Linked DNA regions of Homo sapiens. The protein of the gene in region 1 purifies or fractionates together with the protein of each later gene. This does not show direct contact. Each region holds a gene or a part of one and is shown in the gene's direction. Other genes may lie near its edges.

Region 1 (6,252 bases):
ACCAAATCACATTCTGCCCACATCTCATATACTCTCAGCTCTGGGAGGAAAGAAACGAGGGCCCAGAGGTGGAGCCCAAGGTCATCCAGCCCAGAGTGACTTAAGCCAAACAATTATCAGGCTGAGAGACCTTGGGCCCAAGAGTCTTGCCCTTCCTTCCAGACCATTTACCTTCTCTAAGCCTTAGTTTCCACATGTACCAAATGGAACAAATACAACAGATCTATGGTCCTTTAAATGCTCCAAAAACCAGAACTTGATTTATAAACTGACCGCAAAACTTCACCTGGATTGCCACAGGCCATGTAGGGTCTTAATGTTCTCATAAGTGTGAATATTCACACCTTGCCCCACAGAAACATTTTATGACCAAAAACTGGCCCAGATTCCTCGGGGTGTGGGGGGGTGCTGCCTAATTATAAAATATGCACCCTATTAGCTTTCTAAAATCTGAAAAATTCTGATTCCCGAGATTGCCTTGGTGCCAAGGGGACCTGCACTTATGTCTCAGTGCTGCTGCGGGGATCAGAAGAGGAAATGCAACTCCAGCAGGGCGCCTGGCACACAGAAAGCACTCAAATACTGTAAATGTTAAGTACTTCAACTTCCCGAAGAACTCCCATCCATCGTCCAGCAAGATTCTGCCTAAATTTGCCAACTTCAGGTAACTCATTCCCCTCCTTCCCCAACCAAAACCAAAATAAAACAGAACCACTCCTCTCAGGGCCATCAGGGAGGCCTGGAAACCCCTTTAGCAGTTTTCTTTTCTTTTCTTTTCTTTCTCAGCTCACTGCAACCTCTGCCTCCTGGGTTCAAGCAATCCTCCCACCTCGGCCTCCCAATTAGCTAGGAATACAGGGGCGCACCACCACGCCCGGCTAATTTTTCTATTTTTTTCTTCTTTTGTGGAGACAGGGCTTCACCATCTGGCCCAGGCTAGCCTCGAAATCCTGGGCTCAAGCGATCCGCCCACCTCAGCCTCCCAAGGTGGTTTTCTTCCTTTCTTTTTTTTTTTTTTTTTTTAAGATGTAGTCTCGCTCTGTCACCCAGGCTGGAGTGCAATGGCGCGATCTCGGCTCACTGCAACCTCCAGCTCCTGGGTTCAAGCGATTCTCCTGCCTCAGCCTCCTGAGTAGCTGGGATTACAGGCCCCCGCCACCACGCTCAACTAATTTTTGTATTTTTAGTAGAGACTGGGGGTTCGAGGAACTCCTGGCTGTAAGTGATCCCCCCCGCCAAGGCTTCCCAAAGTGCTGGGATTACAGGCGTGATCTACCGTGCCCAGACCTTGAGCGGTTTTCATAACAGACTGTGAAAGACGGTTCACACCTTCACCCTGACAACCGCCGCCCAAGGCGACGCACCCTTTGCCGAAGTCGCCCCCACTTGCATTCCGTCACCTCTCAGGAAGGACCGAGCCCGCAAGTCCCTCAGCCCCAGCGTCTCCGTACCTCGGGATTGTAGTCGGCCGCGTCAACAGACGCAACCCCAGCCTCAAGGGAGCGGGAGATTCAACTCCCCGCACACGCGCCTCCTCGCAGCGACTTCCTGTGCGCGAGAAGCTTCTCTGAGCGGCTGCACCCAGGATCCTCCGCGGCAGCGCCAGGACTCTATTTCCCAGAGGGCTGTGCGGGCGACTTCTTTCGCCTTCCCATCTCCTCCTGCTTCTTCAGCCTTAGCACTGTGGGAGTAGAGTAGAAAGAGAATCAGGACCAGGCGGCATCAGTTTGTAGTCCAGATTTTTACCTTGTTAAAGAATCATCTAATTAGCTTCTTGCCTTTACTAGAAGTCAGGGAGTGTTAACCTTTTCCGAAGAGCAAGCGGTAGGTTGCCATGGAAACGCGTTGTGACGGGTTTCTGAGAAAACAAGCGGAAGTAAGGGGCGGAGTTGAGGCAGAAGTTTAGGTAATGTGACCTCTGATTGGTGGAGAGGTACCTCACGGTGCATTCCGATTGGTCTGACACTGACACATGCGCAGTAGAACCAGAAGGCGTTCCAAAGCGGCTAGAACGGAGGGGAGGGGGATGAGCAATGAGGGAATAATCCCCATTCCGTCTGGAATCAGAGGGCGGGCCTGCCGCGGAGGCATCTGGGAAACGGAGTTCCCAGGCAGGCGAAGCCCAGGGGCCGTCAGGAAGTCAGCGGCGCCTGCGCGGGCGCCTCAGATTCAGGATGCGCGCGCAGCGCTCTCCGCCCAGCGGAAGTTTTCGCTGGGCAACTGAGAAGGTGAGTCCGGGTAACTGCGGAGGATCCGAGGGTCAGGCTGCAGAAGCCCAGAATCCCACCCCAGTCCCCAAGTACAGAGGTGAGGGGAAGCGAGGCGAACGAGGGGACGTCCCCCGACCCCCTAGCCGCAGCTCGGCCGGGGCGTCCGTGACGTCAGCACGACCGTTTGTGGGAGGCGGAGGCCCCTGCTGTCGGGGTTCGGAATGAGAGCGGCTCCGGGTCGCGGGGTTCACTGGCCTCCTCTTGAGCTTCCCAAGCCACCTTGGGCTCCGTGTTGGGCATGGCTAAGGCGGAGATGGGCGGAACTTGTGGGAAGTTCGACAGCTCCTCCGCTGTGAAACTTGGCGTCTAAGTCATCCCGTGGTTTCTATGGAGGTGCGGCCGAAGGGAGGCTCTGTCGTCGCCTAGGCAATCGCCCCACCTGCGCTGAGGTGGGGTCTGACTTTTAGCCTTTTTGCTGTGCTGTTTCCTGAACTTTCTAGGAGGAACACTATACAGTAGTTGACGCATAGCAGCTGTTCCCTAAACATTTGTTGAATAAGTCAAATAAATTAAGATAAAGACTGGCCTGAGGGTTGGAGTCTTAGGGTTTCAAGTCCTGACCTGGCCATTGCATAGGTGACTTCAGCACATCCAATTTTATTGAGCGTTTACTATATGGAAGGCTCCGTGCAACCGATATTACACTACTATAACCTGGGTTTGAACGGTGCTAGTCTAATAGGCACTGTTCAAGCCCAGGTTATTATAGCAGTGTCTAAAACAAAAATCCTGCCCAGCTAATTCACATTCTCAGGGTGGTTGGGGATGCCAGACACTAAAAAAGAAATGTTAAAGAATATTTACAGGTCTGCAGTCCCTTATCTATAACTTTAAAATCCAAAACGTTCTGAAAACTGAAAGGTCTTTTTCTCTGTTTTGCAACTTACTTGGCAGGCCAACCTCACCTGGCTTTGAACTTGTTTGCTGGCAATACCCACTCTGAACTGATGTGTGACTATTTAGAATTTTTAAAGATTTTGTTGTGCAAATCATATACTTATGGAGAGTTGCCCCTGGATCTCGCCGGTGTTGTAATATGTAATAGGTTCTAAAATCCAAAAAATTTGGCTGGGCACGGTGGCTCCCGCCTGTAGTCCCAGCACTTTAGGAGACCGAGGTGGGCGGATCACCTGGGTTCAGGAGTTCGAGACCAGCCTGGCCAACATGGTGAAACCCCATCTCTACTAAAAATAAAAAAATTAGCCGGGCATGGTGGCATGCGCCTGTAATCCCAGCTACTCGGGAGGTTGAGGCAGGGAGAATCGCTTGAACCCAGGAAGCGGAGGTTGCAAGTGAGCTGAGGTCGTGCCACTGCTCTCCAACCTGGGTGACATAGCAAAACTCTGTCCATCATGCAATACATGGCAGAAGCAAGATCCAAACCCAGGCAGATTATTTCCCAAGTTTATCCTCTTAACCCCTGTACTGATCTGCTTCTAAGTGGCACGTCTTTTTTAGGGACCATCCAGCTAGATAATTCCGGCCCTGAGCTTTGAGTCTCTGGCTGGATGTCTAGATTTGCCTGAGAGATGAATGTGTACTGACACAGCTGGGGACCCCCCCCACCCACCTTCTTGGCACATTTTCTTTTGCAAAGGAGACAATGATTTATTCACTCAGCAGACGTAGACCCAGCATTTGCTCTGTGCCAGGCCTGTTTGAGGCTCTGGGCACACTGTGGCAAACAAGGCAGGGAAAAGTCCCCGCCATCATGAAGCTTACATTCTAGTAAGTCAGAGTATGTCAGGTAGTGACAAGCACTGTGAAGAAAAATAAAGCAAGGTAAGGAGGATAAAACATGCTATTAGTAAAATGGTGTCCAGGGCCAGGCACGGTGGCTCGAGCCTGTAATCCCAGGACTTTGGGAGGCTGAGGGGGATCACCTGAGGTCAGGAGTTTAAGACCAGCCTGGCCAACATGGTGAAACCCCATCTCTACTAAAAATATAAAATTAGCCAGGCGTGGTGACACGCATCTGTAATCCCAACTACATGGGAGGCTGAGGCAGGAGAATCACTTGAACTCGGGAGGCAGAGTTTGCAGTAAGCCGAGATCGTGCCATTGCACTCCAGCCTGGGCGAAAAGAGCCAAACTCCATCTCAAAAAAAAGAAAAGAAAAAACACAGTAAAATCGTGTCCAAGAAGGTCTCTGAGAAGGTGACATTTGAACAGAGAGCTAAAGAATGTGATGAGGAAGTTAACTGTGTGCACTCTTAGGGGGACAGCGTTCCAGGCAGATGGGAGAGCAGGTGCAAAGGTCTTGGGGAAGAAACGTTCTTGTCACGATTGGGGAAAAGCACCGAAGCTGTTGTGGCTGACTCAGCGTGAGCAAGGGGAGAGGTGGGAGAGGTCAGAGAGGGAACAGGGAAGTGGCAGATCATACAGGGGGCTCCTGGGCCATGGTAGGAATTTCAGCATTTATTCTGTCTAAAATGAAATCCACCATACGGTTTTGAGTAGAGGAGGGACAGGGTCTGACTTACATTTTATTTATTTATTTGTTTATTTATGAGACTGAGTCTTGCTCTGTTGCCCAGGCTGGAGTGCAGCGGTGCAATCTTGGCTCATTGCAACCTCTGCCTCCCAGGTTCAAGCGACTCTTGCGCCTCAGCCTCCCAAGTAGCTGGGATTACGGGTGCCCACCACCACGCCCGGCTGATTTTTTTTTTTGTACTTTTTTAGTAGAGACGGGGTTTCACCATGTTGTCCAGGCTGGTCTGGAACTCCTAACCTCACGTGATCCGCCCACCTCGGCCTCCCAAAGTGCTGGGATCACAGGCGTGAGCCACCGTGTCCGACCCACCATATGGGCCAGGGCAGGGACACAGACAGGGTCTGACTTAGATTTTAAGTGGATCCGTCAAGCTACTGGGTTGAAAATAGATTGTAGGGACAAGCGTAGAAGCCGAAAGTCTAGTTAGGAGGCTGCTGCAGTAGCACAAGGGAGAGATGGTGGCCTAGACCAGGCTGGTGACGGTGTCAGAACCGGGGGTGGCACATGGTTAAAAGACTCTCTTGCCGTGGTTCCACACCCAACATCAGCTTCCAGATTTAAATCTACAAGAATGTTCTGACCTGCTGCCCCAAGAACCCAGTCCGGTTTTGCGTTTTCGTTGTATAAATTGGCACCAGGTGAAGAACATGGGCTTTTGGGTTCTGGATTTCAGCTGCGTCCCCACTGTTTTCTAGGTGAGTGGAGTCAGGTCTGGGGGAAGGAGAATTGTCACCCTTTGAGCATCATTTTGTAGGTTTCAAAGATGGGATAATCATCCCTACCTCATAGAGTGGAGGGAAAGATTAAACAAAATCATGTGTCTGGCTCGCCGCTTAAGAGGTTTGTGGCCCTGGGCAAGTCATTTGCTCTCTGAGCCTCTGCTTCTCATCTCCCCAAAGGGGAAATCATTCTTACCTTGAAAAGGGTGATTGGGAAGGTTCTGTAGATAATACCTGCCGAGAACTTAGCACAGTGGTCTGCACATACTGAACTGTCATGAAATGAGAACCGTCTTAAGTGAGTGACTTGACCTCTCTGTGCAGCAGGGACTCCCTGTCCCGGTTACTATGTCTAGAGAACAAATCGTCCCACAATTCACTGGTGTAGAACCACCATTTCTTGTGCCCATGGATCCTATGGGCCAGGAATTCAGAGTGAGCACAGTGAGGTGGCCTGTTTCTGCTCCCCAGTGCCTGTGCCTTAGCAGGAAGACTTGAAGGCTGGGGTTTAAGTGGTCTGAGGACTTGCCCACTCACCCAGCAGCTGATGGTGGCTGTTGGCCAGGGGCCTCAGTTCCTCTCCACCTGAGCCTCTCCATGTGGTTTCTCTGCCTGGGCTACTTTAGGCTGCCTCATGCCGTGGAAACTGGCTTCCATGGGTGAGCATCCTGAGCGAGCCAGCCAGGTGCAAGTTGTTTTTTATGACCCAGCCTGGGAAGTCTCATGGCCTTACTGCTGCCGGTCCTCTATTGGTAGGAGCAGTCACAGC
Region 2 (3,500 bases), on another chromosome or scaffold:
AATGTTTTCACTTCCTCTGTTCCAGGTCTCCTGATGGTGTTGCATTACTAGCGTGGTGCATGTGTCCCCTCTCCAGTGCTTATGTAAAGAAATGAAAGTATTCAGGGAAAGCTGTGCTTTGTTGGAGGACCGCGTTGTGGATTTGGCCACCTTGTCACTTGAAGTCGTGTTAGGGGTGCTTCAGCAGGATGTGGCCGGATGCCTTTCATGATGATGCTGCACAGCAGCAACTGTTGCTCTTTCTGGAAGCTTTGTGGTACTACGGTGGGGGGGCTTTCCTTTGCTGTGCCGGCTCTGTACCTACTGACTGTTATTTTGGGGGGCTGGACCAAAGGAAGACTTGTCATTGATAAATGTACTGAGAAGAGCACAGGACTCCTTTAAGTCTCAAGGTGCTCTGGGCTTAGTTCTTCTGAGCAGGGAAACCAGAGGCTGGCGTTCTGTTTTCTCTTTTGTAAAATGGAAAAATACCTGCCATTGCCACTTAACTAAGTCACTGAAAAGATCATGTGCATGGAAGATGTAAAACAGTATGCCTCTTTATAAGTAAGGTGGCATTATTACTTGAGCTGGTGGAAGGCAGCACGTTTCCCACAATTGGTCTCAAAAGCCCGGGATGCCTGCTGAGTTGCCATTTAGTTTATTACCTTAGCAAAGCAGAGTTGGGGGTGCGATTGTCGATAGTAGGCTTTGGGAGAAATGATTGTTATATTTCGTAATAAATGATGTCCTTGAGAAACTCATAAGTTGCAGTGTAATCCTGTCTTAATTGTGTTGAGCACGACTCCCACTGCAATACCTTAAATAACTGAAAACATTTGCCTTTGAAAGCCCCAATCGACTTGGACAATAAAAACAGTTGCATGTTTTGCTCTAGAGATATTTTCTGCCGTTTCCATCATTCCACTGCCTGGTTATTCCTAGGGAGAATAACAGATAGGATACTGGGGCTTCACCACTATTTGATCAGGTATCAGTTTGAAATAGAGAATCTCTGCCTTATGAAGATAGTAATTCCTGTAGTTAGCATGAAAACAAATTGCCAGTTTGATTTTCTAGGACAGCTCAAGCAGAATTTGTACCACTAGGCTGTAAGTTTTAAGTATCTAATTTTCTGATTTGAAAGTGTATGATTTAAAAATTGGAAAAAGTTTTTGTTATAAGCTTCAAAAGGATTTACTATAATTACAACTACGTAAAATTACAAAGAAAAAAGTAGGAAGAACACAAAATATACAGTGGTTGGATTTATGAGGTTTTTTGTTTTAAAACTTATTCATCACAAATTGTTCAGTCACGTTATTTTACAGTTGGTGGGGTGGTGGGGAAATTTGCACGTTATTTTATTGCTGTATTTTTTCTTTCCTGGGATGTTTACGTGGCTTTTCAGTTACTTGTTTCTAGTAGTGGAAAATCTTGCTCTGTGTTACTTAGGTGCAGGGCAGTGGCAGTTTAGCTCCTATCACTGTACAGGGACAGTATGGAAGGAAGACACAATGAAGTCCAAAGTGTCACTAAAATTTGAAAGAAAAATTATGTCGACAAGTAATCCAACTTGGTTTATTATCCAGGTTATATTATTTTACAGTAGGCTAATACCTAACTTGTGTGTCCCTGTAGCCACTGGCCCAAATAGACAACTAGAATTATTTGGTACTCGGTAATGCCTGTTTCCTCATAGTGGGTTAAACCAGTCCCTGTTGCTGGGCTGAAGGCTATTGACGCACTTCCAAGTGCCTTGGAAATAACTCCAGTGTTAATATATACCGTACTCCAAATGTTAAACTTTCCTCCTTCAGAACAAGACAATCTTTTGGAGTATATAATTGGTGTCTGTTACCTTCAAAATGGAACTTTTTTTTTTTTTTCAGAGAAGACACGAGAATGTCATATTAAAAGCGTAGTTCGTTAAAACACTTGGTGAAGGCTAACCTAGAGAGCATTTGTTTTTTTGTTTCCTTTTTTTTTTGAGACAGGGTCTTGCTCAGCCACCCAGGCTGGAACGCAGTGGTTCCTCACTGCAACCACTGTCTTCCGGGTTCAATCGATTCTCCTGTCTCAGCCTCCCGAGTAGGTGGGATTACAGGCACCCCCTATCATGTCCGGCTAATTTTTGTATTTTAGTAGAGATGGAGTTTCATTTCACCATATTGGCCTAGCTGGTCTTGAACTCCTGACCTCAGGTGATCTGCCCGCCTTGGCCTCCCAAAGTGCTGGGATTACAGGCGTGAGCCACTGCACCCAGCCAGCTGAACATTTTTAAGCTAGTGGTTTGCCCTTGCTCATGATGGTGTGAGGACTCACACTCCTGACATTGTCTGAATTCTGGCTGCATTGCTCTGATCATCCTGATGTTACTGGTCCACGTCTCCCCCAGGATTACAGTAGTAGCAGCTCTACTAACCACCTTTTGTCTACCCATCCTGCTTGCCCTGTTGGCTGCAGTATGTCCTGACTGATATCCCAGGATACAGGTCCTGGCCACCTCTGGGATGTACCTCTGTCCCCTTTGGCTTTCACCCAGAAGTCTTGCCAAGTGTCAGTTGTTTGTTCCCAAATCTGGTTATTCCAGTTGGGCTTATTATTGTAATTACAGTTAAGTATTATGTCAACCTTGAAACAGTGTGAAAAAGAGCGTGGTGGCTCATGCCTGTAATCCCAGCACTTTGGGAGGCTGAGGTGGGCGGATCATGAGGGTCAGGAGTTCAAGCCCAGCCTGACCAACATGGTGAAACCCCGTCTCTACTAAAAATACAAAAATTACCCGGGCATGGTGGCGCATGCCTGTAATCCCAGCTACTCGGGAGGCTGAGGCAGCAGAATTACTTGAACCCAGGAGGCGGAGGTTGCGGTGAGCCGCTTGAACCTGGGAGGCGGAGGTTGCAGTGAGCCGCTTGAACCTGGGAGGCGGAGGTTGCAGTGAGCTGAGATCCTGCCACTGCGTTCCAGCCTGGGCAAAAGAGTGAGACTCCATTCAAAAAAAAATGTGGGCCAGACATTTTTAAGATGTTTGGGAAAATCTGAAAGGACTGTCCACACACATTGCTTTGCAAGTGATTCCCTTTTAAGAACCAAACTTCAGTTATGCCCAGACTTCCCCAACAATCAAAACAGCATAATGTAGAACAACAGAACGTTCAGAGACTTAAGCTCAGAAAGAAGACCCATGGCCTCATATCAAAAAAACCGTAATTAAAAGTAGATTTGTCTGTCAGTTAATACAAAATGTTAGGGAATACCTTTTTTTTTTAAAAATTGTTTGTTATCTAACAAACTTGTTCCCATTAACTAACCAACTTCTGGTTCTTGTCATCTCTGATAAGAGTGCTTCCAACTGTGTTTAGCCTTAATCCCCGCATGCTAAACTGGACTCCCTGTCTGCTTCATGCCATGTAACATGTAAAGTGTGGATCAGTTTAAAGTAGTCCTACTGAGGTGATTGTATTACTTTTGGAGTTAAAATAATTGTGCCATTTACTGAGTGGCAGGGAGCAGAAAGA
Region 3 (3,500 bases), on another chromosome or scaffold:
TTTGTTTCTATCTTGTGTCAGCAATTAGAAAACTCTAGTGCCCCAAGTCCTGGGAGAAGAAATTTCATTAATTGGGCCTAAGCCTACCTGTTTTGCAGACCCCATGGGCCTAGTGATGGTCTGGGATGCCTGGCTCTAGGCCCTTCATGAATCAGACTACAGCCATCCCCCCCAACTCCCTGCCTCCACTTCCCAAAATCAAAACACCCCCTGACAGCACAGCAGCCCCTGACCCTGAACCCAGATCACGTTACTGGCTCTAGATAAAGTAGCAGCAAGAGAGGTGCATTTATTAATTTTTTCTAGCAGATATCTATGGAGTATGCAGTATGTGCCAGGCATTGTGCTAGGCTGGGGATAGAATGGTGAGTTCAACCCAGTCTCTGCCTGCAAGGAGCTCATAGATTAGTTGAAAAGAAGAGGCCTCCTCAGTGTGGTGAGTACTAAGTTAGGAGAGATGGTGAGGGCACCCACAAGAAGCTTTGCTCAAGCAGCCCTGGAGGGATGAGGAGGGTTCCTGAAGAAAGGGCATGTACATGGAGGTGGGGAAATTGCATGGATGTGGGGCAGAAGGCAGGGATAGGGGAGGGCATTCCAGGTAGAGGGCTAGCTATGCAAGGCTGGAGGCAAGAGAAAGCAGGAGGAAGCCCCATGGTTGGGCAGTGCCAGGGAGATGAACCTGGGGGATGAGGCAAGGACAAGCTCCTGAAGGGCCTCAGAAGCAGGTGAGCGAAAGAACTCAGGACTTTACCCCAAAAGCCGTGATGTGCAATGAAGCATCTCAATTGCTGGAGGAAGCACTAGGATGTTCAGGCAGGCCCAGGCTCAGTCCTAGTTCAGGATTTGGAGGCACAGAAAGAAAGGTAAGACTCAGCCCCTAACTTCAGGAAACTCACTGATGGGCAGATACCATGCACTGTGTTGGGAAACAACCAAGCTGTGCATGATGCATGCCCATGGCACACGAATGCTAAGATTTGAAGGCATGATGGGAGCTATCATTTATTGAGTGCACTCTGTATGCCAGGTTCTGCAGAAGGAACCTAATATCACATCTCACTCAGTCCTCAAGGAAACCTATAGTGTGCCTGTTACCACCCCCGTGTGACAGATGGAAAGACCACGGCTTAAAGAGGTTAACTTCACAGCGTCAATAACCAGGAAAGGATGGCACCAGAATGAGCTCAGCCGGTGATCTTCCTCCTACTCTATTCAGCCTTCCCTAAGTGTGGGCCAAAGGTTGTAGAAAAGGCTTCACGGATTAGGAAGGGACTGGCGAGTTAGAATGTTGTTCCCTGTGTCCCACTGTCATCTCTCAGGCTCTGCAGTGGGGGCCAGGAGCCTGACATTTAGGCATTAGGGGAGGCAGGGATGACTGAGGATCAGGATAAACAAGTGTCTCTGAGAGCCTGCCCCTCAGAATCTTTAAGTCGAGTCCAGTGCCTGCTCTGTGCGGGAGGTAGCAGCTTTTCAAAGAATAAAATCAGCGAGTAAAGAATATAATCTGCAGTTCTTTGCAAATTTGACGATGCTGTGCTGCCTACATACCATTAATAGGGGATGGGTTTTCCCAGAGATGTTTGCTTTGGAAAACTCCCAAGCCTCTACTGTTAACAGTTAGAGATTGCACATAGTGGGGATGGTTATTTGAATTAGAAATGGGTAACTCACATGCACCTGAAATGTCTCCAAGTAAAGTAGGGTAGGGGCCAAGTTGTATAAGGAGATGGGTGAGCCAAGTCTGTAACGATCATGAAGAATGGCATACTCTCTCAAATGCCACAGATGATTCTGGAACCTCAAGAATCTCAGAGCTGAGCTAAATGGCTCTCCAAGATAGCCCACCATGGAGCTAAGGTCCTCTGGAATGACACCACTAGCAGTATTGACTGAGCCTGGTTCCCTGATTCACAACAGCAAGTCGTGAAATTCAGACATCCTGTAGGATCTAGCTTTACCACTATGCTCAGTTGACCTCAAGAAATGAAACCAGCTTCCATGATTAACAGACACTAATGACCAACAGGTGAAACACAATCAGGTAAATGGGGAGAGCCAGTGCCAGAGGGCTTACAGATTTTCTGAAGTTCTTCATACACAGGTTCCCCTCATTAGCAGCCATCTGGGAGGGAGCTGGGGATGATTCTGAAACCTGGAGAATCCCGGTCACTATATCATACATTAGTTGAAAAGAGGGAGCCTCCTCAGTGTGGTGAGTGCCAAGTTAGGAGAGATGGTGAAGGCATCTCCTGCCTACACGCCTTGTACAGCCAGCCCTCTGCCTGGATTATACCGGTCTACCACATACCTGGGCAAGGCTCGTCCTTAGTGACGTTACAAATGGAATATTCTTCTTGCCCTATTCCTTGACTCTCTTTTTCTCCTTACTGCCACCCCTACTACTCCATTATCCCCTTCGGCTCCAGCTCCCCCGGCGTGGATGCTCCTGGCTTGCCTTCTGGGATGATACCCAGGGCTTCCCTAATTGTTGCCACAGCCTACCCAGCCCGCTCCTCCCTCTGGACTGACTCACTTCGCCAGGCACAGAGGGCCCATAGCCTGCAATCCTCCCCAGTCAGTGAATCCCTCCCCCTTCCACAGAGATCTTCAGAAGAGGTGTCGCCACACCCTTTGCCCAGGCGCCACCCTCCCGCGTCAGTGTGCGTCACCGTGGGGATGGTCTTTGTTGTTTCCCTCTCAAGCAGGGCCCTCCTTTTCCTCTTGTTCTGTACACACTGGAGAGGGAGAACAGATGGTCCTCCTGCCGGGGGCCAGCCCTCCTGGCAGAGGTGACCAAACCACCCGGCTTTCCCATCTCAGGGGCATCATGGACACCCCTCAGCTATAGGTTCTGTTTCTGGGGATCCCTTGGGTTTTCTGTGTGTCCCCCCCTTCCCCCTTCCAAGGTCTCTGAGACCTGCTGACCTATGCAGCTCAAGCCCAGAGAGAAGACACCAGGCAGGACTGGTGGTGCTAAAAGATGGTAGAAATCAGTTTGTCCCTCCTCCGTGCTGTTTGTGATTTTGATTTCAACCTGGGACGAGTTGAAAACAGTCCCCCGCGCAGCTCACCCGGCCCACGTTACCCACTATCTTCCCGGACTCACAGCTGTCTCCACCCATGCTTGCCTACTGGCAGGCCTTTCCGGCTTTATTTTGCCTAGTGGTGTTACCAAAATGTCTCCTGGTTGAACTTGACTCTTGTTATATCTTCCAATTTCTCCCGTGTCCAGATTTCCAGACCTTACCCACTGTGGAAGGCATCACACTGAAGCCCAGACATGAGTTCTGGGTCTGCTCTTACCCAGTCCAGTGACCCTGGGAAAGTCAACAAACCTCTCTGAGCCAGTTTCCTCATCTGCAGGATCAGGATGTTACCAGCCTGTTCTGAGGATCAAATGAGCGAATAAATGCAAAGATTCTTTGTAAACTGTAAACCAACATTCTCCAAACTGCATTCTGCAGACCCTGCTCTCAGGAGAGGTGTTCATAAACTATTTA
Region 4 (2,584 bases), on another chromosome or scaffold:
TATTTACAAAGAAAACTTTTATGTCACTGCTATAAAGTTTCCCCAGTGGGCTGGGGCCTGGCATGGCCTAGGAGGAGAGGAGAGGAGAGGAGGGGTCTCTGGGCTTGGTAGGAGTCCATGCTCCTCCAGGTGGGCTGGCACGGGGGAACAGGGAGCAGCCTGAGCCAGGTGCTTTCTTTAGCGCCTCTGTGTTCCTCCAGGAGAAGCAAACCAAGCCAGCAGAAGCGCCCCGGCTGCAGCTGTCTTCAGGCTTCGCTTGGAATGTGGGACTAGACTCTCTGACCCCGGCCTTGCCACCTCTAGCAGAGAGCTCAGACAGCGAGGAGGATGAGAAGCCACACCAAGCCACGGTGCTGTATTTTGCAGGGCATGTCCTTTTTGCAGGGACCCCTTGGTGTCAGTCTCTTGTGCTCTGTTCCTAGACTGGGTGTCTTCCTGGGTGAGTGGGGGAGGGGGCAGCGGCCAGTCCCAGGCCAGGGGGTATATATAGAGCCCTGGGCTGCCCAGCCAACTCGTGACTTCCACCACAGACCTCCCCTAGGCCTTGAGGAGCAGATGACTCACGGTGTTTCTGCTTTCCATAGCAGATAAAGAAAAGCAAGAAAGAAAGGGAGTTGGAGAAGCAGAAGGCAGAGAAGGAACTGTCCCGCATTGAGGAGGCGCTGATGGATCCTGGGCGGCAGCCAGAGTCCGCGGATGATTTTGACCGACTGGTGCTGAGCTCCCCCAACAGCTCCATTCTGTGGCTGCAGTACATGGCTTTCCACCTGCAGGCCACGGAGATCGAGAAGGCCCGTGCCGTGGCTGAGAGGGCCCTTAAGACCATCTCCTTCAGGTCTCAGCTTTGCCCCAGGGAGCACAGTGTCTTCGCACGTTCTGGGCTGGGAAGTTTCTCAACCTGTGGGGTAGCTCCTCCTAGGCAGGCCGGCAGCATTTTGGGTGGCTGCCACCAGGGGCCCATGGGTCCTCAGGCTTTCTGCCATAGCTGCGGCCATCTGTGAAATAGATCTACTCATTTATATTTTATAGTCTTCTTCCCTGAAACTGCTAAGGGTAACCTTCACAAGAGTCCATACACTTATATGAGGGAACCAGTTTGAGCAGAAACACAGTAAGAAAAGAACTCACTACATACCTGGGCGAAATCCCTGTGGTGGTTTTCCAAACAGAGGGAGTTTTTGAGGCCTAATGAAGAGGGAAGGCAGTCCTTTGCTTCATCCTCTTAGCTTGAAGAGAGAATCAGACCCAGGACTCTGCGTCCAGCCCAAACCTCAGGCCCGTTTGGGATCTGGTGGGCATCCTTTCTAGGAATGGAGGCAGAATCCAGGAGAGCCTCAGACTCAGCCATTGGGGTTGGGGCAGGGGTTTCTAATGCTGCAGGAGCTGTGGGGACACAGCCTCTTAGGGTCTACATTTGGGGTGGGATCTGAGGACACAGATAGAGGCTGGGAGGGGGAGGTGGTTCCTGAGTCTGTCTGGATGGGGCGGGAGGCTCACTGGTTTCATGTGGCGCTCATGTGCTGACTGCTCTCCCTCCAGAGAGGAGCAGGAGAAGCTGAACGTGTGGGTGGCTCTGCTGAACCTGGAGAACATGTACGGCTCTCAGGAGTCCCTGACCAAGGTCTTTGAGCGAGCCGTGCAGTACAACGAGCCTCTCAAAGTCTTTCTCCACCTGGCTGACATCTACGCCAAGTCAGAGAAATTCCAGGTAGGAGGTTGGGCCACAGACGAACTCCTGGGAGTTCCAGGGCCACAATCTCAGAGAAGAGCCCCTGGGGTGCTGGGTCCAGTCCTGCTGTGAGCTTGCCACCCAACATCGGGGCCCCAACTTCCCTATCTTCCAAGTAAAAGAAGTCATTTCCCTCACCTCTTCTTCAGGCCTGTGGGGTCAAGGTGAGGGAAGGAGTGGCTTTGGAAGTGAAGGGGCAGTGGACCCCTGGTGTGTCTGCCTTGGGCTGCTGGCAGGGCATCACAGACAGAAGGGGACGTCCCGGCCCAGCATCCGCTCTGGCGTCTCTCCTACTCCCCCTTGTCATTCTCATGTTCTAGGCTAGGACCGCCCTCCCATGGGTGCGGATCAGCAGGGAATCCCCTCCGTCGTGTTGTGCCTGTTCACGGTGCCCTTCTGTGAGCCTCCCTCCCGCTCCTCTCAGGTCTCTAGCATTAGGCCCTGAGAGTGATTTGGTGTCTGGGAGCCCAGGTCTAGCTTCTTGTGAGTGTTGCTGCTTGTCTGTCTTGTCCCCTCTGTAGTATCACACTCTCCTCAGCGTGCCTCGTCTTTTCCCACAGGAAGCTGGTGAACTCTACAACCGGATGCTGAAGCGTTTCCGGCAGGAGAAAGCTGTGTGGATCAAATACGGCGCCTTCCTTCTGCGGAGGAGCCAGGCTGCAGCCAGTCACCGCGTGCTGCAGCGAGCCCTGGAGTGCCTGCCTAGCAAGGAGCGTGAGTGCTCATTCCCAGCTCCTGAGCCCATGAGCACTCCAGGATCGGGGAGTAGGAACTGGCTGTGGCATTGCTTCTTCTAAGTCAGGAGAGCCTTGTGAGGGCTTTCCTCTTGCTGCCTGTTGATTCTCTGCCCCTCAG

What was found.
Region 2: the proteins of VRK3 (region 1) and JARID2 purify together in Homo sapiens (affinity purification with mass spectrometry, with the first as the bait; one large-scale study listed by BioGRID). This does not show direct contact.
Region 3: the proteins of VRK3 (region 1) and PRKCE purify together in Homo sapiens (affinity purification with mass spectrometry; one large-scale study listed by BioGRID and IntAct). This does not show direct contact.
Region 4: the proteins of VRK3 (region 1) and PDCD11 purify together in Homo sapiens (affinity purification with mass spectrometry; one large-scale study listed by BioGRID and IntAct). This does not show direct contact.

What each region holds. Positions count from the first base shown.
Region 1 is NC_000019.10:50,021,322-50,027,573, reverse strand, and holds the start of VRK3 (serine/threonine-protein kinase VRK3), read left to right. Parts: upstream 1-2,201; 5' UTR 2,202-2,307; exon of another isoform or gene 2,308-2,659; intron 2,660-6,252. UniProt on the Homo sapiens protein: Plays a role in the regulation of the cell cycle by phosphorylating the nuclear envelope protein barrier-to-autointegration factor/BAF that is required for disassembly and reassembly, respectively, of the nuclear envelope during mitosis.
Region 2 is NC_000006.12:15,249,069-15,252,568, forward strand, and holds part of JARID2 (protein Jumonji), read left to right. Parts: intron 1-3,500.
Region 3 is NC_000002.12:46,179,675-46,183,174, forward strand, and holds part of PRKCE (protein kinase C epsilon type), read left to right. Parts: intron 1-3,500.
Region 4 is NC_000010.11:103,441,626-103,444,209, forward strand, and holds part of PDCD11 (protein RRP5 homolog), read left to right. Parts: intron 1-200; coding exon 201-350; intron 351-584; coding exon of another isoform or gene 585-587; coding exon 588-835; intron 836-1,539; coding exon 1,540-1,708; intron 1,709-2,289; coding exon 2,290-2,443; intron 2,444-2,584. UniProt on the Homo sapiens protein: Essential for the generation of mature 18S rRNA, specifically necessary for cleavages at sites A0, 1 and 2 of the 47S precursor. Directly interacts with U3 snoRNA. Involved in the biogenesis of rRNA.